Homo sapiens: one gene and its partners. The protein of the gene in region 2 interacts with the protein of the main gene of each other region in a pairwise test. Each region holds a gene or a part of one and is shown on either strand. Other genes may lie near its edges.

Region 1 (7,547 bases), on a different chromosome or scaffold from region 2:
AGCTTTTGTCTCAGACTATCTTTCCAAGGATGTTTACTTAGCAAACAGCCTTGGAAGATAGTATCTCTCTCTGGGGCAGAGAAAAGATTTTATTTCCTGAGCAGTATAATAATCTCCCCCTCAGGGATTGTGAACCCCGAAAATTTGAGAAATTTCAGAATTTAGAATTTAAATTTGAGAATTTAGAAAGTTTATTTTGCCAGGTCAGGCATAGTAGCTCATGCTTATAATCCTAGAACTTTGGGAGGCCAATGTGGGTGGATCACCTGAGGTCAGGAGTTCGAGAGCAGCCTGGCCAACATGGTGAAACCCCATCTCTACTAAAAATACAGAAATCAGCCGGGTGTGATGGCAGGTGTCTGTAATCCCAGCTACTTGGGAGGCTGAAGCAGGAGAATCGCTTGAACCTGGGAGACGGAGGTTGCATTGAGCTGAGATTGTGCCACTTCACTCCAGTGTGGCAGTGTGGGCGAAAGAGCGAAACTCTATCTCCTCTGTCTCAAAAAAAAAAAACAAAAAGCAAAAAAAAAAAAACCTGGCGCCGTGGCTCACGCCTGTAATCCTAGCACTTCGGGAGACCGAGGTGGGCGGATCACCTGAGGTCAGGAGTTTGAGAGCAGCCTGGCCAACACAGTAAAGCAGCCATCTCTTTAGTGTGGTAAAATTACAAAAATTAGCCGGGCGTGGTGGTGGCGCTCCTGTAATCCCAGCTACTCAGGAGGCTGAGGCTGAAGAATCGCTTGAATCCAGGAGGCAGAGGTTGCAGTGAGCAGAGATCACACCATTGCACTCCAGCCTGGGTGGTAAGAGCGAAACTCAGTCTCAAAAAGAGAAAAAAAAGAAAGTTTATTTTGCCGAGGTCGAGGACACTTAGCCTTGACACAGCCTCAGGAGGTCTTGACGACATGTAACCAAGGTGGTCAGAGCACAGCTTGGTTTTATACATTTTAGAGAAACGTAAGACATCAATCAACATATGTAAAATAAACATTGGTTCGGTCAAGAAAGGCAGGACAACTTAAAGTGGTCAGGAAGGGCGGGACAACTCGAAGTGGGGAGAGGGCTTCCAGGTCACAAGTAGGTGAGAGACAAATGGTTGCAATGAGTTTCTGATTAGCCTCTCCAAAGGAGGCAATCAGATACGCATTTATCTCAGTGAGCGGAAGGATGACTTTGAACAGAATGGGAGGCAGGTTTGCCCTAAGCAGTTCCCAGCTTGACTTTTCCCTTTAGCTTAATGATCTTGGGGGCCCAAGATATTTTCCTTTCACAGTATGAAGGTTGGGCAGATTTGTTAGCAGCTCCTTCTAAGACACGTGGTTTTGTAAGCTTAGGGTTCCTTGGCTGTGACACGAATGCATGCTGTGCACAGCATCCACCTAAGCTGCTCTGGCATCATCCTTGAGGGACACAGAGGACAGGGGGAATTGAGGCAAAACACGAAGCTTACACTGCCTGCTGGGCCACAAGTAAGAGAGTCTTTTGTCCTTGACCCATACGTCTCATGTCTTCTGCTAGCATCTGTGAGCCTCTGAAACTATGGCAGACTAACTTGATAGTTTGCAAGTAGGGTAAACTTTTGGACCCTCCCCTGTTCTTGACATCTTTACACACACTTGACTGTTAAGTGCCTTGAGAGTAGGGACTGTGTCTCAGTGGACTTTGCTTACCCTGTGGATGACACAAAGTAGTTGCTTGTGGTAGGTAGTAACTACCTACTAATGCCGCTTTGGTCTAAAGGACTTTGGATGTAAGCACTCATATTTATTTACTAAATTCAGCTCTGGAAAAAACTGCCATTATTCCCCTGTTTAGCCACAGATCTTCTTCCCCTGGTCATTAGGTATTGTGTACATTCCTTGGGTTTGCAGAAGGTGAAGCCACAGAGAAAGTGAAGTGCAGGGGGCTACAAATTGCTACAGAAAATTCACATTGTGAATAAGCCCTGCTGCAGGTAGTGGAGGTGACTCATTTATCAGACTGGGTGTTTCGGGGAGGTAGGGTGCTGTGGTGCAGTTGGGATGGAAATGCCGGTCTTTGTTGTTAGCCTCACAATAACATCAAACATACCAGACTATTTCCCAGAAGAGCCAGGATGACTGCAAACCGACCTGTCTGAGCTCGAATGAAGGAATGAATGAGGGCTTCTGGTGCCTGATGTCTTAGAAGTAAATTCTGCTAACCTTTTGCAACATGAGTAAGCCCAGTCATGACCAGGCAAGACAGCTGGCTGGGCTTGCTCATGGGAGGGAAATCTTCCAGGCTGCAGCTTTCATCTGGGTTTTGAACTGTGGAAGCCTATCCTTTTCTGGTTTAGGAGGAGGGTAGAACGTTGAGAGCATTTGAGCAGACATGGCTTTCAGAGCCAGAGAAAGTCAAGGGGGAAAAGGCTTTGCTCAGAGACTATGGCTGATGGCTATTAAAGATCACTTCGTTTCATTTGTCATTTTATAGATTAAAAAAATGAGGTAGGCCGAGCGCGGTGGCTCACACCTGTAATCCCAGCACTTTGGGAGGCCGAGACTGGCAGATCACGAGGTCAGGAGATCGAGACCATCCTGGCTAACATGGTGAAACCCCGACTCTACTAAAAATACAAAAAATTAGCCGGGCGTGGTGGCAGGCACCTGTGGTCTCAGCTACTCGGGAGGCTGAGGCAGGAGAATGGCGTGAACCCGGAAGGTGGAGATTGCAGTGAGCCGAGATCGCGCCACTGCACTCCAGTCTGGGCGACAGAGCGAGACTCCGTCTCAAAAAAAAAAGAAGAAAACCCAAAAAAACCACTGAGGTCTACCGGCGACATTATTGGATAGATGACTGCTTTGGGAGTTCCAGTTGAACCCATTTCTATTTCATTAGACTGCTCATTTTTTCTTTTTCCTTTGGCTCTGTTAAAAGAAAAAATTACAAAGAATTTAGTTTAAACATCTTAACTGGCTTTTAGTTCCAATTCTACAATTGGGCAACGCTTCATTCTGTAAAATGGAATGAATGTTCCAATGAGAAGAGGAAGTTGGTATTACAGACAGAAAAGGACCGAGGAAAGCAGAAACAAAAAGTGGATTAGTTGGTAGAAAGTTACTTTTCTTGTAAAGGTTAAAGAACACGGGACTTCTTCATGCCAGCTAAAACTGACCTGTTTGGGGATTTTTGTTTTGAGACAGGGTCTTACTCCAGCGGGCAGGCTGGAGTGCAGTAGTGGCACCATCTAAGCTTACTACAGCCTCAACCTCCCAGGCTCAAGCGATCCTCCCTCCTCAGCCTCCCAATTAGCTGGGACTACAGGCGCCAGCCACCACGCCCGGCTATTTTTTTTTTTTTTTTTTTTTTTTTTGGTAGAGGCAGGGTATTACTATGCCTAGGCTGGTCCGGAACTCCTGAGCTCAGGCGATCCGCCCACCTCGGCATCCAAAAGTGCTGGTATTACAGGTGTGAGCCACCGCGCCCAGCCTGTTTGGGGATCTGGCTAGCATCTGTTTCTCTCCTGATTTCTTGGAAGGTCAGATAAAGATCCTAGCTTTGGCGTGGTAGTGTGAAACTTCAGCATGAGTAACCCCATTTTGGTTTGGTCTGATGGGCCTAATGCAGGAGGTCAGTCTAAACTAACGGTCTCCCATATACATTTTATCTAATAGCTCTGTCACCCTTCCTGCACACCCGGGGAACTCGGGTGCGGCATTCTAACGCCTGCTCAGCATGATTCCACATTTTCTCCAGGCCCATAATCCAGAGGAGGTTGGGCCCGGAGCAGGCTTGCCTCGCCAAGCTCCGGCTCCGTGCGTGTGTGAAGCAGTGCCATGCCTGAGTGGGGAGGAGCCGCGGAAGAGAAAGCGTAAGGCGGCGTGGAAATGGGTGGGGCACGCTAGGACCCGCTCACATTTGTTCAGGGAGAGGCAGTCCCAAAAAGCCTCTCAGGCACACAACCCAGCACAGCAAGGCAGTCACACCAAGGTGGGAAAAGAGGGCAGAAGAGCGCGAGGGGCTGGAGGTGGCGCCCCTGTGTCCCACTCGTTCTCCCTGGGCTGGGAAAGAGAAGCGGTCCCTCAGAAGCGCAGGCTGCGCTAGCTTAGGATGGACGTGGGTAACGCTCAGCTGACTCCCCGCAGGCACCCTATGCAGGGCTTTGTTTCGGGGGGGAACCCGCACCAGCGCGTAAGGGGAGTAGGAGAGATCTACGTGACCCTGGTGCGCAGCCGCGCCCTATCGCCCCGGCCACGCGCCGACGCCCCGCCCCGTCCGTGACGCGTTCGCGCGGGGCCTCCGCCCCATCCCCCTCCCAGGCGGTCCCCAGCGCGCTGCCTCCGCCGTTCCCCGCCCCCTCGCCTCTGAGGCTGCCCGGATAGCTGCCTGATCCAAGGCCCAGCAGCTTCTGCCTTCCGGATCCCCACCGACGGACGGAGGCAGCCCACCTGCAGGACCGGGGCGCTGTCGGTCCACGTGGCCGCTCTGGAGCAGGTTGGAGTTGGCAGCGGGCTGCGCTGCAGGGACAGGCGCGGCGGACAGCCCCGGGGGCAGCGGCGGGGTCCTGTCTGGGAGAGGACAGGGTTGCGGCGGGCGGAACGGTGTCTCCTTCACTTCGCCCTCCAGCTGCTGGAGCTGCAGCCCGACCGCGAGCGTGCCAAGCGGCTTCAGCAGCTAGCGGAGCGGTGGCGGCGGCCCCCCTCAGGACACCACCAGGTACCGCCGCGCCCGCCTCACGCCGACCCAGGGGCCTAGGCCGCGGCGGCCAAGCCGGAGGCCCGCGCCGGACTCGGAGTCGGCCCTGGCTTCCTAAGATGGCCGCGCTGCCCCGCGGCCCCTCGCCCCTCTCTGCCCGGGATCTCCCTTTGGCCCTTTGACCCCAGCTTACCGCACTTCTTGTCCCTCCCGCAGATTCCCCTCTTCCCGCGGCCTCGCCATGGCGACCCACGGACAGACTTGCGCGCGTCGTAAGTAAAGCTGGGATCTCTGCGGGATGGGGCGGCGGAGAGTCGAAGCCTGTCGACCAGAAACCCAGTTTGTTTCCCCCTATCTTTCCAAGAACTTGGAAATTCGGCTGCTTTTGGTGGTCGCCCCACCGTCTGACCACCTCCTCTGCGGAGGAGGGGCTGGGCTGCTGGATTTCAAATGGGGAACAAGGCCCGGGGAGTTGGTCTGTGGCCGCATGGACTTTTCAGCCTTTGTACATGTCTTTGACGTATAGAAGTAAAAAGTTGTTAATTGGGGATTCTGCCTTTGGAGGATCGGATCAATCACTTTTCTAGAGGAAGTAGCAGTCCCTCTTGTGAGAGCGCAAGGTCATTACTTGTGCTCCTAAGGGCGTGGACGTGCTTTGTGGAATGAATGAGCTGGTGTAATGAGCTCAGATTGCCTGCCCTTAAGCAGCACAGCATTGGCCGAGGACTTGAGAGTCACATTAGTAAGTTTGAAGCGCTATTTGATATTTAGTTGATGTAGACATTTGAGTGAAACACACATGGCAGTATTTTTTCCAAGTTTCAATATTTAAATTCCCAGTATTAAATTCTCTTCCCACTCCAGGGTGTTGGTTTTCCCCTCAGCGAAGATATTAAAGGACGTATCAGGGTAAAGGGCCTAGTCTTAGGTTTCGGTTTTATCTAATTTAGTTAAATCAGCTCATCTCAGTGAATTTTGGCAGATACATAAATATCCATACACACAAATACTTGTTTGATTCTTTGTACTTGTCCAGTCCTAGGAAGTGAGGCTGTAGGTAATAGACTGTTTTTCCGTTTTGAAACGAATTCCCCAAGTTTGTATAATCATGGTTATCTGTTTTAGAAATAATTCGTTGGTGGTATCTCCTTTATGGGTCGTTATAGTTCTATTGTAGCTCCTGACCGCATAAAAAACATTCCAACAAATGGGATTGCTTGAATTTTAATATCAGCAGTGGGTCATGCTCTTGTTCTTGGATAGAAGGTGGGAGAATAGAGACATTAACACTGGAATGTTTTTTTTCTACCAGCAATGTGTATTCCTCCATCATATGCTGACCTTGGCAAAGCTGCCAGAGATATTTTCAACAAAGGATTTGGTAAGAACCTTATTTTTAAAACGTTTTAGATAAAGAGTGAAAATGTATGTTTGGGTTGCTTAGCGAAATCAGATCAATCATTGCAAATTGTAAATATCTTGCTGCTTTAAATTTAGAGTTACTTATTTTTTTGAGACAGGGTCTCCCTCTGTTGCCCAGGCTGGATGCAGTGGCATGATTATACCTCACTGCAGCCTGGACCTCCTGGGCTCAAGCGATCATCTTTCCTCAGCCTCCCACGTCCCAAGTAGCTGGGACTACAGGCACGCTCTGCCACACCTGGCTAATTTTTTTTATTTTTCGTAGAGGTGGGGTCTCACTGTGTTACCCAGTAAACACAGTGGCCTCTCAAAGCCTGGTTGGATTACGTTACAGACATGAGCCACTGTGCCCAGCCTTGTATTAATTCTTCTATTAGAAACTTAAGATACTTAGATTAAACTTATGTGAAAATAGTTCTTTTACAGTCTACATCCCCCTCCCCCAATTTCCCAAAATTTTTAAAAACTGTACTTAGAAGATTTGAGCCTTTAAGAAAAACGGCTCGTGCTTTAATTTTTTTTCAGTTATAGCTTAGGCCCTGGTTGACTAGAGTTACGATATATTACTGTTTTGCTTTTGTGGTGACTCCTAATACTTTATCTAGAGTTATGAGCTTTTTCAGGTGAATTTGAGTTTTCTTGAAAATTTTGTTCCATACCCTCCTCCCCTTTATTTAGACTGTTGGAAATACCCCATTGGCATAAATGTCCTAAATGTCTGTATTATGATAAGTTGGTTTTGTTTTTGTTTTTTTTTGAGACGGAATCTCGCTCTGTTGCCCAGGCTGGAGTACAGGGGCGTGATCTCGGCTCCCTGCAGCCTCTGCCTCCTGGGTTCCAGCAATTCTCCTGCCTCAGCCTCTCTGGTAACTGGGATTACAGGCACATGCCACCATGCCCAGCTTTTTTTTTGTATTTTTAGTAGAGACGAGGTTTCACCATGTTGGCCAGGCTGGTTTTGAACTCCTGATCTCAAGTGGTCTGCCTGCCTCGACTACCCGAAGTGCTAGGATTTCAGGCGTGGGCCACCGCACCTGGCCATATCATGATAAGTTATTAGCTATTCTGAAATTTCAGTTGAATGATTTTTTAATCTGATATTTAAGTTTAAGAATAGTTTGGGGGCTGGGCGTGGTGGCTCACACCTGTAATCCCAGCACTTTGGGAGGCCGAGGCGGGCAGATCACGAGGTCAGGAGATCGAGACCATCCTAGCTAACACGGTGAAACCCCATCTCTACTAAAAATACAAAAAATTAGCCAGGCGTGGTGGCACGCACCTGTAGTCCCAACTACTCGGGAGACTGAGGCAGGAGAATCGCTTGAACCCAGGAGGTGGAGGTTGCAGTGAGCTGAGATCGTGCCACTGCACTCCAGCCTGGGCAACAGAGTGAGACTCCGTCTCAAAATAAATAAATAAATAAATAAATAATTTGAAAGCATTCTTTTGTGTACCAACTACCAAAAACT
Region 2 (7,029 bases):
GCCTCCTGGGTTCAAGCGATTTTCCTGCCTCAGCCTCCCGAGTAACTGGGACTACCAGTGCACACCACTGTGCCTGGCTAATTTTTTGTATTTTTAGTAGACAAGGTTTCACCATGTTGGCCAGGCTGGTCTTGAACTCCTGATCTCAGGTGATCCACCCGCCTCGGCCTCCCAAAGTGCTGGGATTACAGGCGTGAGCCACCGTGCCCGGCCCATTTCTCAGTTTTAATTGCTAATGTGGTAAAAATCAATAGATACAATGAAAGCTCTTTGGGGTCCTGAGAGCAAGAAGGTTGAGAATTGCTGCCCTAGACAGGGACCATGGCCCGCAGGCAAATCCAGCCTGTGGTTTTACTGGCACAAAGCCCCACCTCGTGCCACTCCCACTGGCCAGCAGCAGAGGAGCTGGGCAGATGACTCTGTGGCCGGGGCCCAGACCCTCTGGTTCTTTATGGAGTTTGCCGCCCCCCACCCTGGACTGGCCAAGACCCTCTTACTGTCCAACCAAGCACAACAGAACTGTCCCCCTCCTGCCCTGCCGCCAGTCTGTGTGTGGACTCCGGACCATCGCTGGACCTTGCCAAGTGTCCTCTCGGTAACAAAGGGCTGGAGTCTGTGAGCGTCCTCTGCGTCCCTGACCCAGGACACTCTCTCGGCAAGGAGGGACCAGGCCACCGTGAACACCAGGGCAGGTGGAAGGGCAGGAGGTAGCATTCCCCTATGGGGTCCTGCCCTCAGGTTATCTTGTTAACCAGCAAATCCAGACCCCTAGGGGTCCAAGGTTGGAACCACTTCCTTGGGGGCCTCAGCAGCTGCTTGGGACCTTCAGAGTCCTTCCCTGACTCAGCCCGCCCCACCACCAGGACACCCTCGCCAACAGGCCAGCCTCGCCACTTCCATGCCCTCTGTATTCCCCTCCAAGTCCAATCGTCCACCCACCTGCCTGGCCCCAGAGACCGCTGCTGGGGTTGCACCTGCACCCTGGAGCAAGCCCACAGCACCCAGAGGGAGGTCACACAGACGGGGCACCCTGGGATGGAGGCCACCTGACCAGCCACATGCCCATGCATCTGAGACGCCACCACCTTCCCTCAGAGGTGGTTTCAGGTGACAAGGAAAGCTGGGGGTGCACAGGATGGACAGGCAGGGACACACTGGCTCCCACATCTCATCGCAGGGGAGCGCTAGGGCCAGAAACCAGCTTCAATGCTTCCCGCCCCTATAAGTAGCCTTATCTTCTCAGCCCTGGCATGTGACAGCCACAGGGGACTTGGGGAGCTTCCCAGCCAAAGAGGGACCCTGGGCAAGGCAGAGATTCTGCCCTGTGCTGAGCCCTTCCCTGCCCTCATCCAGGCAGCCTGGAACTTTGTAACCTCAAGCAGTGTCCCTGGAACCCACAAGCGCAGCACCACCTTTACTCAGCCTGCTCCTGCATTCAACTCTGCTGGGCCCACGGGTCTCGGGGAGCCCCCACCCCAGGTGGGCAGGGGAGGAAGCTGGAGGAGCCCCAGCCTGGGATGGCTGTCCCTGTGCCCACAGCCCAGGCTGGGTGCCCACCCAGCACGTTTCTCCTACTTGGGTCTCAGGCTGGACACGGACAGGCCAGACCGAGGACCGGGTCGGTGAGACAGGGAGGCAGCTTCGAGGCACCAGGCCACCCGCAGGGCCTCGGCAGCGTGGTGGCGGCACTCGGCGCTGTCGTAGGCAGGCTTGCTGAGCCAGGGGGCCTCTGCATCCTTCTGCAGGAAGTAACAGTAGGGCAAGGCAGAGGGGGCCTCCCCATCGGCCCGTCGCAGCCCGGCCCGCTTGTTCCCTAAGATGTTGCGGCCCCGCCGGTCTCTGCGGCCCCGCCGGGCACCCTCGGCCAGGCCGGCTCGCTCTTGCAGGCGCACCTTCCCTGGGGGATGGCCGTCAAACAGGGCCTCGTAGAAGCCCCTCTCGGCTGCATCATACCGGGGCTTCTCCAGCCACACCTCCCGAACCAGTGCCTGCAGGCTGCCCAGCGGGGGCTGGCCATTGACCGGTGGGCTGGGCTGGTGGGCCAGGTCGGGGACGGCCACCTGCTGGCCTGTGTTGGGAGTCCCCTGCCTGCGGCTGCCGTCGGGGGCCAGCAACAGGGCCTGAGACCACTCCACGAAGGCCCGCTCAGCCTGGTCGAAGGAGGACTTGTTGACCCAGATCCCCCAGGTCACGTGGTGGCAGGCCACCTGGTTTCCATGGGTGCAGAGACCCCAAGGGGCCAAGGCAGGAGGCCAGGCTGCCTGGGCAGCCACATCTGCCAGCTTCTGGCGGTAGGAGCTCTCTGCCTGGTCGAAAAGTGACTTGTCCAGCCACACGCGTTCGGCCGAGAGGCCCAGGAGGGCCAGGTCCGCGGGGCCGAGCCCGCTCTTGGGGGAGCGCTTCCTCTTTTTCTGCAGGGGCTTCCTGCTGTCCTGGCTCTTCCTGGGATCACGCCTGCTGCCGCCGTCAGGGGCTTCCGCCTCATCAGCGTCCTCAGGGTCGTCCTGGCCGGGCCCATTCATGGCTGGCCCCTCGGCTGGCAGCTGCTGGGCGGAGGCGGCCGCCTGTGTGGCCTCGTGTTCGTAGAAGCGCCGCTCGGCCTCCTCATACTTGTGCTTGTCTTCCCACACGGTCTCCAGGGTGCAGGAGGCCTTCCCGCTCCTCATCTTCCGGACACAGCGATAAAAAGCAAGCAGAGGGCAGAGTTGCAACACAGCGGGTGGCCGCAGCCCCGTGCCCACCCTCCCCGTGCCCGCCCTCCCCGTGGCTGCCCTCCCTGGGCAGGGGCTGAGGATGCTCCCCAGTGGGGCTTCCATGAGATGACATTCGAGGACTTCGAAGTCAAGCCCATGTGGGGACGTTTTGTTGTGAAGAGAAAACAGGCCGGGCGCAGTGGCTCATGCCTGTAATCTCAGTACTCTGGGAGGCCAAGTGCCTCCCAATACATGAACAATATATAATTTTGTTAGTGAATGTATGGCCCATGAAGTATCTGAGACATACTTACACTAAAAATTTTTCGTCATTTATCTGAAATAAGCTTTAACTGGCTAACTAGCTTTCCCTGCATTTTTCCACAGGCCAGGCCTGGCCACCCCACCATGGTGGCTGGTGTTCCCATTCTACAGAACGGTCTCTGTGGCTGTCCTGGCCACACCACTGCCACACCCAGAGCACCCTCAAAGTTCTTACAAAAGAAGGAGCCTCGGCCAGGCACGGTGGCTCACACCTGTAATCCCAACACTTTGGGAGGCCGAGGCGGGCGGATCACAGGGTCTGGAGACTGAGACCATCCTGGCTAACACGTTGAAACCCTGTCTCTACTAAAAATAAAAATAAAAATTAGCCGGGCGTGGTGGCAGGCGCCTGTAGTCCCAGCTCCTAGGGAGGCTGAGGCAGGAGAATGGCGTGAAGCCGGGAGGCGGAGCTTGCAGTGAACCGAGATGGCGCCACTGCACTCCAGCCTGGACAACAGAGCAGGGGAAAAGAAAAAAAAAGAGGGAGCTTCTTTGTGGGCCTGACTGTCCTCCCCAGGAGGGGGCCAGGTGGCCGGGCAGAGGGTGGAGTGCCCACTCATGAAGGAGACGCCAGGGAGGATGCTGGTGACCACTGTGTAGAAAGGAGGGGCCAAGCGCCTGGAGCACTGAGACGGCTCTAGGCTCTCTATCAGCTGCCCCCGCCTCCCAGCTGGAGTCCATACCTTTGGGTCCATCCAAGCTAAAGGGGAATCATGGGGCTCTCACAGTCCCAGGACATCAGGGCCCCCTCTAAGGTTTTGCTTCTGTGTAATGTTAAGAGGGACCATCTTGGTGGGAGGCAGGTTGTGAGGCTCCACTCCCCACTTGCTACTGTGGCCTGGGAGCCTCAGCCTCCTCCCTGGATGAGGTGTTCCCTCAAGCTCTGGGCGACCTCAGTCACCTGCTGCCCCAGTGCTCCAGCAGCCATGTGGGATCCTGCCGGGGGCACGCTCTGCTCCCAGGTGTCCAGTGTGGTGTTACAGAAAGGACAGGCCCAGAAGGCCAGGGGCAAATCTGCTCTTGGGATGCAGGTCAGCACCCCAGCCCGCGCTCAGCCTGCGATAGCTTCCTCCCCAGCCATGCCCGACTCCAGGCTCTGCTCCCCAAAAGCAGAAACGCCTGGGCCTAACCAACGCCTAGGAGCACCCTCAAGAGGGGGCTGTGCAGCTGCCCCTCACAGACACCGCTGCTAGTCTGCTGCCTCCGCAGGTGTGTCTAGTGGAGCCTGAGGGCAGACAGACCCAGTGGCCCCAGGGCACCGTGACTGGGACCACCTGCCTGGTCTGCACCCAGAGGGAGGCAGCCTTCGGTCAAGAGCAGACCCTTCACACCAGTGGCTATGGGTCTTCGCCCCTCTTCTAACATCCTTACCCAACAAAACCAAGGCTGGCTCCAACGCCCCCCGTGGGGTGCTGAGCTGTCTACGCTCCACCCAGGCAGGGAGGACTTTTGGGAAGGCACCCCTGGCACTGCACTCTGCAGCCTCTAAGTGGAACATGGAGTTCTTTGCGGGCATGTGGCCCGAATCCCGCAGTCCCAGCAACAAGTTCTAATGGCACCAACGAGGAACCGGGGCCCATGGGAGGCCACAGGGCCCATGAAGACGCTCCCTAGGCTCCCCTGCTCATTCCTTCCCCAGGCTGGGGCAGCACTTACCAAGGCCAGGCTGATGGGCAGAGGCAGGGGTTGTGGGTTGGGGGTGGGGTGGGAGCAAGAGCCCAGGAGACAGGGCATTGTGACATCGTGCGGTGGTACCCCCACCAGTCTCTCTGCTCCCATGGAGCCGTGCAGGTCCCATCAGCAGTGCCACTGAGCTGGCCCCCAGTGTTGATGCCCTACCAGACTTTATTGGCCAAAGTGGCCTCAGACTATGTTCTTGGGGGCTCCGGGCAGAAGCCGCCGCTCAGGGAGGGGAAGCCACTTCAAGGCTCCTACCGAGACCTGGCACTGCCACCTGTTCCCTGCAGGGAGCCGCATGTCAGCTGCTGACCCGCCAGCCCAGGACAGGACCCTGCTCACGGCCACACAGGGTGCCCACCTGCTGCTGCCCCATCCAGAAAACCCAATTCCTCCACTTTCCAGATGGGAAACTGAGGCCCTCTGGGCAGACTGGGCCATGCGCAGGTGGTGCTGGGTTCCCTCAGGTGCAGCGAGGGCTGGGGGTTCCCCGGTCAAATGAAGGGGAATGGGGCATGAGGACAGGCGAGTACTTACTTTGCTTTGGCCTCCTAGGACAGCATGAAGGAAAAGCAGCAAGGTTAGAGGCAGCCAGAAAGACTAACCGGGTCAGACACAGCAGCAGGTCAGCCCGGGGCGGCCGGGGGCCTTTCCAGAAGCTGCTTGGCGAGGTGGTGTGGAGGTGACACTGGTGGAGATGGAAGCTGAGCGCCAGACAGACCCGCCGCCACCACAATCCCAGGTGGCAGCTGAGTCCACACAGGTGACGTCACTCCGTCATCCCCTGAAAGGGGAGCTCTTGGGATTACTGTCAGTTGGAGCCTAGGCAGGCCCTGGGGGACAAGCAGGGACCACTATCTGAGCCAACCTTTCCCAAATCCACCCACCCTGTCGTCACCTGAGCAAGGTAGCCTGAGACAAGATAAGCCAGCGCCCACAAGCATCCCCTGGAGCTGCCAAGGAGCTCCCCCAAGCCCCTCACCTGCACTGCCCCTGTGTCCGGTCTGCTGAAGGAGGCCCGGAAGATGACAAGGACCCTCAAGGGGGAGGCAGCCCAGGGCTCACATTAATACAGGGCCTCTCTCTCAGCAGGAGCCACCGTCAAGACAGGGCTGGCACCCAAGGGCCCCAGCACAAGCTACAAAGGCCTCCCAGACTGACTCTCCCACAATGTGCACACAAGGACAGGACCTCCACCCAGTTCACTCCTCGGCTGGAGACACTAGGTGTCCTGCCCCTAATCTCACCAGAGCCACCTCATAAACCCTGCAAGCTCTGCGAAGGGCAGCTGGGCACAGCTGAAAGCCCAGCCACCAGCCCATGTCCTGGGTGGGACTGGGCAGGAGGGGCCACCTCCTACTGCTGATCAACCCGAGAGCCCTGGCTGGGATCCGTCTTCCTTCACCAACGGGAGCTCCGGCCCCAGGGCCCTGCCCACCTCTGTGCACCCCACACTGCAGCAGGGAGCACCCTGCAGGGAGGAACTGGGCACCCTGCAGGGGTCTGGTGGAGACGAGGATGCTACGGAGGCAGCTGCCCCATGGGACCAGTAAGAGGGATCTTGGGTGGGCTTCCCTGCAGAGAGGAAGCCCTCAGGAGACACCACAGTAAGCCATGCTGGAGACCTGGAGGCCAGGCCCGTCACCTGGGGAGCTGGCCACTAACAGCGGGCAGAGAGCCTCCCAGGACAGCCAGCACAGCCCCCCACACGTCCGAGCCCACCTCCTCATTTCCCCGCTTCCCGCATTCCCAAGCATGGGAGGACCTGCCGGACGCAGCGCACCATCTCTCCTAACAGAGACCAAGTCTGAGCTTCAAAGCTTGCGCAGACGACAGGCACGTGCAAGCCTCTCCTCTCCAGCAGGAGAGCCCGGAGCAGGACACAGCGACTCTTTCAACTGCGTCCCGACAAACGGTCAGCCCCTTCGCTCCTGCAGTTTATCCAAGCTCAGGAGGAGCTTTCTAAAGAGAACACAGGGAGACAGCTGGCTGCCAGAGAAGCAGTCTTGGAAACGCCAGAGCCAGGCCCCAGGGGGAAGTGGCCAAAGTGTCCCTACTCTGCTCCTGGAAGCAGGCCAGGCTCACCACCAAGGCTCTTCCCTGAGGGGTAGACAGTGTCTGCCAAGCACCTGAGCCTCTGGCAGCTGCCCAGAGTTTGAGAGTGCCCTGGGGTCCTGGCTCTGGAAGGCTCCACCCAGCTAACAGGGCCTGTGACACAGGTGGCAGCCAGCAAGACCCACTGCAGCGGCATGGCCCTCACAGCCTCCCCTGTCCCTGTCCTGGGAGCAGCCCCGGCAGACTCCTACCCAGAACACTCCAGGTCAGGAGGGCAGGG
Region 3 (5,242 bases), on a different chromosome or scaffold from region 2:
AGAGATCCCACCACTGCACTCTATCCTGGGTGACAGAGTGAGGTGCTGTCTCAAAAAAATACAGTAGAGTTTAAATGCTGAAGGAGATCAGAGAACACCATTGATCTTCCTCTAGATATGGCCTCACTTTCACTTCATAATCATATTTTGCTGTATACGTATGGATCAGTATCAGTGGTTTTCACTTTGGTTTACTGATAATGGGCAGCTGATCATTGAAAAGCCTAGTGCAGTACTAGCTTAGTAAATAGAGCTGACTGCTGAACTGGTATGCAAATTGTTTTACTAATAATAAATAACTTGGTGTCTTCTATGGAAGGAACTGCTGGAAGCTGTACAGAAACAAAGGCATTCATTATCCTAGTTTTCATAGGCTTCTGTATAAGGAAGAAGAAAAACATAAAGCTATACTGAACAAGATTAGAGTCAACAGTAGACAGAAATTACTTAGAACAGTATAAGATGACTTACCAAAGGGGTTATTCAGACAGTATCTGAGGTTTTTGTTGGTAGAGCAGGGTGTGGGTGGTACATGCCACAGCCTTCTGAAAAATGAGCTACCGCTGATTTGGTAAGGGTGTTCTGCATCCACTGATAGACCTTGAACAATTTACTGTTGTTCTTTTGGTTTGCACTAGGATGCAAAAGAAAGAAATCCCTGCGCTTTCTGTCTGTCTTTGTGGCGGCCCAGATTGAATTGGGGAATACATCTTTAGCCTGGAAATGTAGGCTGCATGTTAATGGTAATGTAACTTTTGCAGTGTAATGTTTGAAAAATATTAATGTAGTTTTTGCTTTTACAGTAACAAATGTGGCAATTATTTTGGATCTATCACCTGTCATCATAACTGGCTTCTGCTTGTCATCCACACAACACCAGGACTTAAGACAAATGGGACTGATGTCATCTTGAGCTCTTCATTTATTTTGACTGTGATTTATTTGGAGTGGAGGCATTGTTTTTAAGAAAAACATGTCATGTAGGTTGTCTAAAAATAAAATGCATTTAAACTCATTTGAGAGAATGCCTTTTAGTTTAATGCATATTTAAACTAAATTGATCCTGTAGTGTTCCTGGAGAAGCTAGAGCCTGATTGTAGGCTACTACTCATCAATTAACTTCTACAGTGGAGACTACTTCTGGGACTGGAATATAAAAAAGAATCAAAGGTTCTGATTTTGAGTTGCAATAAAGGGAAAGACCATGCTCATAGCAGTGCCAACATCTGAAGTGTGGAGCCTTACCCATTTCATCACCTACAACGGAAGTAGTTAACTGGAAGAGATTACCAAGAGAATAAAAAGAGACTCATTCAGTGGAAGCAACTTTGTCTCAGCTTATTTCACATAAAGAGAGCGAAGTCTTTTGGGATGAATGTTAATTAAACTCCCTGGTAACTAGAACAGGGACTGGCAAACTAGCCTATCTGACCACCTGTTTTGTACACTTTAAGGTGGTTGGTTGCCTTTTTAAATGGTTGAGGGGAAAAGAATACCTTGTGGGATATGGAATTTAAGTTCGAGTCCAGTTTTATTGGAACGTGGCTATGCTTATTCATTTATGGATTGACTGTGGCTGTTGTCAGTGCATGAGCAGAGTTGTGTCTAACAGACTAGAGCCTGCAAGTTTGCCAGCCCCTGATTTAAAAGATGAAGGTACACAGAATGTGGGCTGGCTGGTGGGCAAAGGGGTAAAAATGTTCTCTATATTGTATCTGAAAAGATGGGGTGTCTGAATAAGAAAATGCATCTATTTGACAGACCTGGAGCAGTTGCTATCTGCTGCTATGGTTTCCACCACAGATGCAAGAAGAACATGTCCTTGCGCTTTCCGTCTGTCTAATTGTGGCAGCTGAGATTGAATAGAGGAATACAGGAGGAAAAAAAGCGGGAAGAGTTTTTGAGGCAGGTCGGTCACCCAGGCTTGTAGTGCAGTGGCACAAGCAACTCACTGCATTCTCTGCATCCTGTGCTCAAGCCATTTTCCCACCTCAGTCTCACTAGTTGCTGGGACTGCAGGCATGCACCCCTATGCCCAGCTAATTTTTGTAGAGACCGAGTATCGCTTAGTTGCCCAGGGTGGTCTCAACTCCTGGGCTCAAGGAGATCTGCCCACCTCAGCCTCCCAAAGTGCAGGCCTAGCCTGGGAGGGGAATTTTCAAAACGTGAGTTTTGGGAAATAGTCTATCAGCCTTACCTGGTTGATTACACTTGTAAAAGAAAGATTAAAAGCAGGCCAGTGACTCTGGTCTGCTTGAACATGTGAATGTAGTGGTTTGAGCAATCTGGAGTTTGCCCTAGTGTCAAATTCCAGACTGTCCATAGTGTCCAAAACCTGAGGCAGATACTAATGTTAACCCCCAGCACCCCGTGATTGGAAACAAACCTAAATACGTATTGGGAACTTAATAGCAATTTTAAGCATTCTGATAGATTTTTTGTAGGGATGGGGTCATGCCATGTGGCCCAGGCTGGTCTGAAAACTCTGGCCTCAAGTGATCTCAAGCTTTGGCCTTCTAAAGTGTTGGGATTACAGGTGTGAGGCATTGCACCTGGCTTAGCGTTCTGATTTGACATTGTAATGAAAAGTGTGAGTCTCATCTACAGGGCCTTTTGTCCTCTGAAATGATAGCAGGAAGGGAATTTTCAGGCAGTGGTCAAAGCTGGGGAAACCAGGATAGTGAAGAAGGCCTTGAGGTGAGAGATGGAAGCTAATTGGTGAACTAGCCTTGGAAGCCTGAAACAGACAAGTAGCAATTCAGAGACTTTGTGGGCTCCACTGCTCCAACTTGTTTTGAAGATTTTCAGTTCTGCAGAAGAGGTATTTCCCCAGTTGTCCTTTCAGTGCTCTTAGCTGTTTTCCCAACATCCAGATCCAATCAAGGCTGGGACATAGCATTTTATCATGTCTATTTAAGTCAGAAGTGATGAACCCCAGCTGTTTACCTCATGGTAAACCTTTGAAGATTCCAGGTAGAATCTTCTCAGACTTTGAAGACTGTCTCATTTTATATCTTTTTCTCGTTATTCCTAGGGTCAAGACGTTTTGGGCAAGAATAAGGATGTGAACATCAGAAAGCTCATAACATTTTGTTTTTGATGCTAAGTTTAACAAAGGCATGCTTTAGTAGCCTGTGGGCCCTAGGGTTTGTTAAAGTGTGGAGAACAACTGAGTGGAGCAAGAGGACTTTTCTAGGAAGGTCCTTGTAATGTGACATTTGAAAACAAATGAAGGTGTGGAAGTAGGCCATGTGGATATCAGGACAAACCATTCCAGGCCAAGACAACAGCAGTTAGTCTGGAGTGTGATGTGTTCTGGGAAAAAAGTGGCCACTTTGCTAACCCAAGAAGACAGGAAGGGTTGTAAAGCAGTGGGAGTGTGCAAGGAAGGAAGACCAGACCTCAAGGAAACCACAGGCGCTCTGAGCAGAAGAGTTACATGATATGACTCAAATTTTTAAAGGATCACTTTGGCTGCCAGGTGGCAGGGTAAAAGCATAGAATAATTGTGTATAATGTGTTTTTAAGGCAAAGATAGTGGCTTAGTCTAGGGTAGTAGACTGAGGTGGTAGGAAATGAAGATAGAGACAACAGGATATGCTGGTGGGTGAGGATGGATTTAATGTTGATACAAGTATTTTGGTCTGAGCGTTTGGAAGAAAGTTGGCACTGAGGTGGGAAGTCGAGTTTAGTTTTGTTAGTTTTGGATGTGTTAAGTTTGAGATGCTGATTCTTCAGAGAAGTCTAAGCTGGAGAACTATATAGAGAGTGGAAAGATAACAATAGACATTGAAAGCCATGATACAGGATAAGGTCATTTGGAGAGAGGATAGACTGCATTCCAACATGAGATTGGTTGACAAAGAGAAACCAACAAAGGTAATTAAGAGGTGCTCCCACTGCACTTGTACTCAGAAGGCTGAGGTAGGATTGTTAGAGGCCAGCCTGGGCACCACAGGGAGACCCCATCTCTAAAATTTAGCCAGGAACCATGGCTCATGCCTGTAGCCCCAGGAATTTGGGAGGCTGAGTGGGGAGGATCGCTTGAGGTCAGGAGTTTGAGACCAGCCTGGGCAACATAGGGAGACCTAAAAAAATTAATTGGGCATCTGTAGTCCCAGCTACTCAGGCGGCTGAGCTGAGAGGATGGCTTGAGTCCGAGAGATTGAGGGTGCAGTGAGCTGTGATCATACCACTGCACTCCAGCCTGGGCGGCAGTGAGACACTATCTGAAAAAAGTTTAAAAATTTTAAAAAAGAAGGAACTGCCCCTGAGGTAAGAACCAAGGGAGGGCCTCCCAGAGGTCAGGTGGAAAAAGTTTTAGGAAGGAGGAAGTAGTCAACAGGGTTACCTGTTGCAAAGTACTTAAGTAATATGAGGCCTGATAGTGGTAAACTTGACTACCGTTGGATTTCACTAGTGGGAAAGGAAGTCTAATTAAAATGCACTCAAGAGACTAACAGTCGCAGGCATGAAATACAATACAGGTACATGGTTTTTTATTATGTGTGCATCTGCTTCAGTAATAGGTGTGAATTACTCATTTGGATCATTAGGAGTTTCAAAATCTAGTTAAATGACTAGATTTTTGTTGATGTAAATTCTGTCATTCTGAACTGCAGGGATTGTCAGTAACTTAACTGCAAACTAAACTGGTGATAATTATGGTAAAATTGCAAGACGAGCAATAAATCTCAACCAACTTGAGAGAACACTGATAACAAAGCATCCTTAAGGTTATATGTGTGTGCACACAGGTGGAGTGGAATGACTGGCTGGCAGCAGAATACTCAGTAAAATGGAACTAAAACCAGGAGGATTTACTAATTTACAACTAGTATAGTGATCAGTAATTTACAACTAGTAGGTCACTACTAAAGAGCTCCAGCTTTGTGGCAATTAGCATGTGTTTCTAGAGACTATCCATAAGAACTGTGAGTGCAACTTGAAGTTTCTGGAAACATTTAATATTTCATTATTCCGAAGGAAAAGGCCTTGATTAAAGTGTTTTTAACATAAGCAAGTAAAGTAAAAGGTGCCATAGCTAGGCAGTGGCTCATACCTGTAATCCCAACTACTTGGGAGGCTGAGGAGGGAGAATCGCTTGAGCCCAGGAGTTTGAGCTTGGAGCGAGTTAATGGCTGCAATACTGCACTCCAGCCTTGGTAATAGAGGGAGGTCTTGTCTCTTGAAAGAGAAAGGTGCCACATACCTTCCATTGAATAAAAGTTGGCTGCTATGC
Region 4 (7,029 bases), on a different chromosome or scaffold from region 2:
AATAAAACACATGACATTAAATTTGCTTCAGTTTTCAAAAATCATGGACACTTAAAGTTTCTTTCATGAAACACCCAGATCATCTTTTAATTCGAGTACATGAATTTAAGTAAAAAACATGTGCATAAACTTATAAATCCTGTAAAATAGAACTGCGGATTTTGGCAGATCATAGCAGTTGCATGAACACATTTTAAAATGGTATTTAAACCTGTCCTACAATGAATTAAGTATAGAAATGTGGTAATTGAATTAATACTAGCACAATAAATTATTAATAGGCCAATTTCTTGATACTCTCAATTACTTCTACTTATTGATTTAATTGAGATGAGTTTCACAATCCTGAGAACTGTTGTTTTTCCTCCTCTGGGTACAGTGAACTATGGGATCACTAAAGTAGAAGGACAGCCCCTTCACACCGAACTGAATAGAGCTATGGACAACTGTAACAGTCTCCGAATGTCTCCCGTGAAAGGGATGCAAGAGAAGGGAGAGCTGGATGAACTTGGGGATAAATGTGATAGCAATGTATCCAGCAGTAAGAAACGGAGGCACCGAACCACCTTCACCAGTTTGCAGCTAGAGGAGCTGGAGAAAGTCTTTCAGAAAACTCATTACCCGGATGTGTATGTCAGAGAACAGCTTGCTCTGAGGACAGAGCTCACTGAGGCCAGGGTCCAGGTAGGAGCCAAAAAGAGGCCTTGATGGATGGGATAGGAAAATAAATGGTGTTAGAATAATTGAATAAGTGCATTTTGCCACAAAGAAACAAACTGATTCCCTAGCTGAAGATGAGAAACGGAGTAATATATATGAATATATGTCTACTAAAATTATTTTTTAATTGCAAAAATTTTGACAACTCACGCAATATGTAAAACAAAAGAACACAAGTTATTACAGAGACATAAAAATTAACAATCATTCAAACATAACAATATGATAATATATCTCTGATTTTCAAAAGCAGTTTTTAAAGGATGAAAAGCAGAATCATGACTATTTAGTAATTGGTATATTTATTTGTTTTTTTTTTTTCGGTTTTATTAGCCACTAAGGTTCTTTTTTAGATTATATATCAGGTATTTGTAAATTATTTGTATAATAGCCCATACATCTAGAAATTTCTAGATTTGGAGGCATAATAAAAAAAAAAACAATCCCACAAATTCCCAATTGTTATGTATACCATGGAATGTTTTCACTATGGATAATTAAAAACAAGATCAAATAGTGCTCATTTACAATTTTATAGTCCTAGTAGTTGTCAACATGTAAATATTCCATTATAATGGTTAAAGTCTAGATAAATCATATGAATTTTGCATAGGCAATAAAAATAATGGCTTTAAAGTAAATTTTTGTGTATACTCAATTATGTTTATAAGATATATTCTAGTTATTAAATTGGATGATCCAATATGCTTAATTTTTAAAAATAATTTGAGAAAGAAAAATCATACCAGGTAAAATTTTACCTCTTAGGAGTACTTTATTTTGACTACATTTGATATTCTTAAACTATATTTTACTAGTTTCCAAGTAGTAAGAGTTTAAAATGCAACAATAATTCAGGATAATGGCCTTGGTCTTTGTGTGTGTTCTGACTCCTCTACAAAAGTATTGATTTTTGCAATTCCCATAAACTGCTAAAATGGGGGAATGAATAAAATAGTGAAAATTTTTGTTCTAAATCGAGTAACGGTATTTCTTCTTAAAATTGTAAGGCTCTTACATCATTAGAGACAACATCTGGTGGCACACGGATAACAAGCAGCAGATTTTTACTTGAGTTTGTGGAAGCAAATGGTTACTTTATCTTGGTTCAGGAAGTAAATATGTAGAAAGTTCATGCTAACAAAGAATTTTAGAATTGTCGAGTATTAACACCCGCTGTGTAAGTTTGAGATTTTTGTCTTTGTCTATATTTAAATTAGTTATACTTGTAACCATAAACAAATATGTTTGCACACAGAGTGACCAACTGTACATAATGCATCTTTTCCCCTTAACATTCACCAAGTCTTGATTAATTTTTGTCTGAGAACATGCACAGAGAGCCAACTTGAACTTAATTTACTCAGGTCGTTCTCTTTCCTGCTTTGCACATAAGAGTGGTAACTATTACTCATTTTAAGGAAATTGTCAAGTTCTTTTTGTCAATGGAAAAAAAAATAAAACCCAAAAACGTATTACTAAATTCCCTTAGTGTGTTCCTGGGGCTCATCTGCGGAGACAGCAAGAAAATTTGATTTGTTTTTTGTTGTTGTTGATGTCTTGAGCCTTGGCATAATGGATAATATGCATTTATCAGCAGTGTACTAAAACTATAATGAACATGTAGCTCTCTGGCTCATTTCAATTGCTGAAAACTCTGCAAAGTGCCATCTTAAATTTGTAATGTGTACTAAAAAATTAAACTGAGTATTAATATGTTGCCATAATGGTGAAGGTAAAGATATACAAGATTAGAATTGAGTATGAAAAAGAGTGAAAATTTCAAGTAAACTTCAACAAAAGGCTTTTACAACTTGCATTTTTTATATTTGATTTCTAGCCTTTTTCCTAAATATTTTATATTCTGAACATAATTGTGTGAAGAAGACTAGATTCCCAAAAGCTACTCCTATAATGTTCATTTAAAAACATCCAAGTATATATATTGAATATAATCTTCTGCATCTCCCTTTAATATTAAAGTGAAGATATTGGAATATTACAGGTATGAATTAATGAATATCCAACCTGCTGAGGAAGATGGTTCTTATAATAAATACTTCTAATAGGTAATTAGAGAAATTGTGGAAGATAGCTTAGTGACCTTAGCTGCCACAGTAACTGATAGACTTTCTTGACACTTGGTTCTATCTGCCCTATTTCTTATATTATTTCCATTACCTGTGCTTTAAATTAGAGAAATTACGTAAAGATATCCGAGCATTTTCATAAGGGAAAATAAGTTGCATAATGTATGTAATAAGCACATTCACGTATTTTAAAACCATAGTTCAACTTTAGATGATTCCTTTTTACCTATAATTCTTGTCATGCTTATTATAATATGTAATCTCATTTTTTCCTATTTCTAGATAATCATGATGTTCCTGCTGCTGCCATATATTTAGGTGTAATCTTTATGTTTAAAATTTTAAAAGATTATGTAGGTATGAGCACAACTGAGAAGAGCTTTCACTTTTGTGATATATTTTAAAGATAAGTTTTAATAGACTCAGATATTAATTTGCTTATAGATTGACTGAGTTTACGTTACGGCATATACATCTTCCAGACTTGCAGCATTCTCTTAAAGGAGACTTATCCATGACAATGTGGAGATATATGGAGTATTCAGGATCATATAATCTAATTGCTTTTTGTTTTCCATAAATGAGAAAACAGAGGCTCAGACGTATCAGATGTATTTCCCGAAAGTCTCCTGCCTCTTTCTATTAAATTATTTTGTCTCATGGGAAAATCACTTACCACATCAAGATACAAGAAAAAGTAAAATCTGTGGATCCTTTTCTAACATAAATACATTTCTTTTTACGTAATTTTTTTAACCTGGTTTACCTTTCTTGTTTGATGTCTTTTAACATCACATTTGCTTTATCAAATATTCCTTAGCTAAAATTCTAATTTTTATTAAATAATTAGGTTTGGTTTCAAAATCGAAGGGCCAAATGGAGAAAAAGGGAACGTTATGGCCAAATACAACAAGCGAAAAGCCATTTTGCTGCCACCTATGATATATCAGTTTTGCCAAGGACTGACAGCTACCCACAGGTATGCTAAACTACACAGAATACTGATCAAGAAAAGGATATTTGGTTTGTATATTCTTAAAATGGTTAGCATAGGCTTTATTATATGTAAGATAATAGCCAAGAATGAAAATCTAAGCTTCAGAAAACATTCTTCATGTCTGCTAAGTTTTAATTTTTCTGAATTATTTTCTTGTTGTTTTCTTACAGAGTCATTCATTTAAAAATATTTCAGGGTATTTTTTTCTTTTGAATTTTGTTGTATATTGCCACCAATGAAATAGCATCATTTAATGATACAGGTATTTTAATTATCCTACATTCTAATTACTCAGACTCTCTTCCTTTTGTTAACTTTTAAAAATACTGTAAATAGAGTGTTGCTTAGCATGCAATCTCTGTGGATATTGTTTTATGAACTATACTAAAACCTGATGTCAAATGTGGCCTATTAAGCCCTTAACTCCATTTAAAAATGTGTCTCTTTTTCTATGTTTTTTTTTTTTCAGTTTTCAAATTGCTTATTCTCTAAAGGTCCACATTTGGTCCTGTTTGACTTAAAACAGAGATAGAATTAGTATCAGACATAATTTTAAAAGTTAATCACAGATGAGTAACAGCTTCCCTTTATAATGGGTGCTCTTTTACTTCATTACAAAAAGTGTTAGAAATTCTTTTTCTTCTCATTTTTCTTTTTCAATATAAGACTATATATTTCTTTTTCATATTTTGTAATGAATGTAAATGTTTGTCTTTCTAATTTATTTTGTGTCACTTTTTCCTAATACTTAATAATGATATTCAGAACTGTATTTGATACATGATGAAAAAAAACCTACGTTATAAGCAACGAGCTATGCATTATTTTGTTATTTATTATTTAATGATATGCATTATAAGAGACCCATGTGAAAACACATATGAAACATATATGCTGGAGAAATACCTTGATAGTTCACTAACTAGATGATCTGAACCCCAAACTTGAGTATTCATTTTCTTCAACACTATGAGTACAAATTCAGTTCTTTAATGTTGTTCTTTCCTTGTGTTCCTATGCCTTTTATGATTCTTAAAAACCAGTTTTAGAAACCTCACTCCTCCAGATAAATCCCCCAAATTTATTAATATAATATTATATGTTAAATAAAAGAAGTCTTGGAGGTCACCTTGTTCAACTCCTTCCTTTAAAAAAGTTATGAAAACGGGCTCAATTGAGTTAAGGAATTGGTTTGTGATCATACAAGTGGGTTCCTGCAGGAGAGACTGTAAAGGTCGCTACGTCTAAACCTTTACCCAATGGCTTGCTAGAAGACTATTCTTATGGATACCTTTTCAATAAATGCCTCCTATCTCCTTGCCATAGGAGGAATCTTGTTTCTCTTTTAAAATTTATCTTAAAGAGGTTACCTTATGTTTTCTCCTATTTTAAAGCATGAGGCTACCTCTGGTGGTTACTTACCATCATAGGGCTAGTCAAATTTTGTTTGCCAAATATTTTTGAGTGCCTTAGTTGAGTCAGTGTGAGTTAGTTTGAGTGCCGTTAGTTTCTAAACAAAATTCTGTAAAAATCTTTCCCCTCTAGGCTGCAAGCTCCATGAGGACAGGGACTGCAGTGTCTTCATGGTTATTAACACTACAGTAGCCCTCACTGTATATCTGGGCACTGTTCTAAGCAGATTACATATATTATCTCATTTAATCCTCACAACAACCTTATGTGCTAGGTGTTACTAATTGTCTCCATTGCTCAAATGAGAAAGAGGTAAGGTGAAGTTCAGATTTGACCAGAGACAATTTGGTTCCCACTTGCCAGATTTTAACCTGACAATAGACTGTCTCTACCTGTGAATATATTTAAATGATACCAAAGGAGCATAAAGTTTGAGCTGCATTATTGTAAGTCTGCGCTTTAGTGTCAGGAGCCACAACCAGAGAAATAACAATAAAAATATAGGTGAAATGGAGAATGGTTTATATCATTTTGAACTACTTGACTGTGGTGACTTTAGACGTAATAAAGTAACAAATTATGAGCTCTTCACATGGATTTTAAACTCTTACTAAGTATATTCCACAACACTTGACTATGACTACTTTTTTGTGCATTTTATTCTTTCAGTCTTCATTTCCTTTCAAACCCCATTTCTGTCTGTTTTCAACTTTTCTGTCCCTGTACGTTGGTTGTTTTATATTTGACTCTTCTTGCTTCTTTGATAAAGCAATCAGAATAGGGCCTAGCATCAATTAAGACCTATATAAAGGGTAAAGCATTCAGAATAGTGCATATTCTGAATCTAAAACTTTATACAGCTTTAAGACATGTATAAATGCTCAATATGACTCAGTGTACTCTGAGTAACCATCTCATTTCCCTAAGATTATCTTACCATTGTGTTATTGTACCTCAAAGCTTTATATATTATTAATTAAAAGAATGAGGTAACCTAGACACCGATGGAGGAACGGACATGGTACACCAAATTATATATTTGATCATCTTTTTCACTCCAATGAAAAATTAATTTAAAAAATTTCCCCCCACAAATCATGGGAATGTTGCACTAATTATTCCTCATAATTTTGTATACATTGGCTATACCACCTGATAATTTAAGAATGGAGAACATATGTTGGAATTACTTCAACAGTGCCAATCATGAATAATAATAAAAATTAATACCATGAAGTCCATAGTACTTTCTTGTATTGGTAAATCATTTAATGTTTGGTTACCAAAATTTCCGAAATTATGTGGCTGCAACTCCCCACTGTAGATACTGGATAAAGCCGGGGGAATTTTTATTTTAACTTAAATATATACAAGATACTTTTTTAGTTTGTTTGAAAAAATAATTGGGCCAAGATCATGTCTCTCAAGAGTTAGCCTAAATGAAATGTTTTTTTTATCATGGGGCTTGAAAATAGGAACTTGTAATGGGAGAAATAGAAACAGAAGTAGAATCCAATATCTCAGTCTAATAAGACATTGGATTTGGTGACTGTTAATTACAGAAAAAATTATTAATTTCAGAAAAGTTGGAAACTAGAAAATGTTAGAGGCAGGACAGAAATAAAGAATTAGCAATTTGGCAGAAAGAAAAGCCATACATAGAAATACATGAAAAACAGAGATAGTTTAGAAAATGATCTCCTCAAGCCTGCTCAGTATGTACAAGCATAATATGTTTATTTCTATATAGTAATTAATACTTTCTAATATGTTCTAATAAATACTTTGTTTCAACTGGCCGTCTTTTTA

Evidence for each region.
Region 1: the proteins of EEF1D (region 2) and VDAC2 interact in binary tests that used the Homo sapiens proteins (3 or more experiments, as listed by UniProt).
Region 3: the proteins of EEF1D (region 2) and TPT1 interact in binary tests that used the Homo sapiens proteins (3 or more experiments, as listed by UniProt).
Region 4: the proteins of EEF1D (region 2) and ALX1 interact in binary tests that used the Homo sapiens proteins (3 or more experiments, as listed by UniProt).

The regions. Positions count from the first base shown.
Region 1 is NC_000010.11:75,206,262-75,213,808, forward strand, and holds the start of VDAC2 (non-selective voltage-gated ion channel VDAC2), read left to right. Parts: upstream 1-4,534; 5' UTR 4,535-4,677; intron 4,678-4,872; 5' UTR 4,873-4,897; coding exon 4,898-4,928; intron 4,929-5,220; exon of another isoform or gene 5,221-5,322; coding exon of another isoform or gene 5,323-5,398; intron 5,399-5,968; coding exon 5,969-6,037; intron 6,038-7,547. UniProt on the Homo sapiens protein: Non-selective voltage-gated ion channel that mediates the transport of anions and cations through the mitochondrion outer membrane and plasma membrane.
Region 2 is NC_000008.11:143,587,416-143,594,444, forward strand, and holds part of EEF1D (elongation factor 1-delta), read right to left. Parts: exon of another isoform or gene 6,481-7,029; coding exon of another isoform or gene 6,478-6,480; exon of another isoform or gene 5,246-6,477; 5' UTR 5,232-5,245; exon of another isoform or gene 4,797-5,231; coding exon of another isoform or gene 4,674-4,796; exon of another isoform or gene 3,193-4,673; intron 2,667-3,192; coding exon 1,576-2,666; intron 1-1,575.
Region 3 is NC_000013.11:45,332,950-45,338,191, reverse strand, and holds the end of TPT1 (translationally-controlled tumor protein), read left to right. Parts: intron 1-582; exon of another isoform or gene 583-638; coding exon of another isoform or gene 639-716; exon of another isoform or gene 717-803; coding exon 804-806; 3' UTR 807-4,721; downstream 4,722-5,242. UniProt on the Homo sapiens protein: Involved in calcium binding and microtubule stabilization. Acts as a negative regulator of TSC22D1-mediated apoptosis, via interaction with and destabilization of TSC22D1 protein.
Region 4 is NC_000012.12:85,283,193-85,290,221, forward strand, and holds part of ALX1 (ALX homeobox protein 1), read left to right. Parts: intron 1-379; coding exon 380-684; intron 685-3,660; coding exon 3,661-3,789; intron 3,790-7,029. UniProt on the Homo sapiens protein: Sequence-specific DNA-binding transcription factor that binds palindromic sequences within promoters and may activate or repress the transcription of a subset of genes.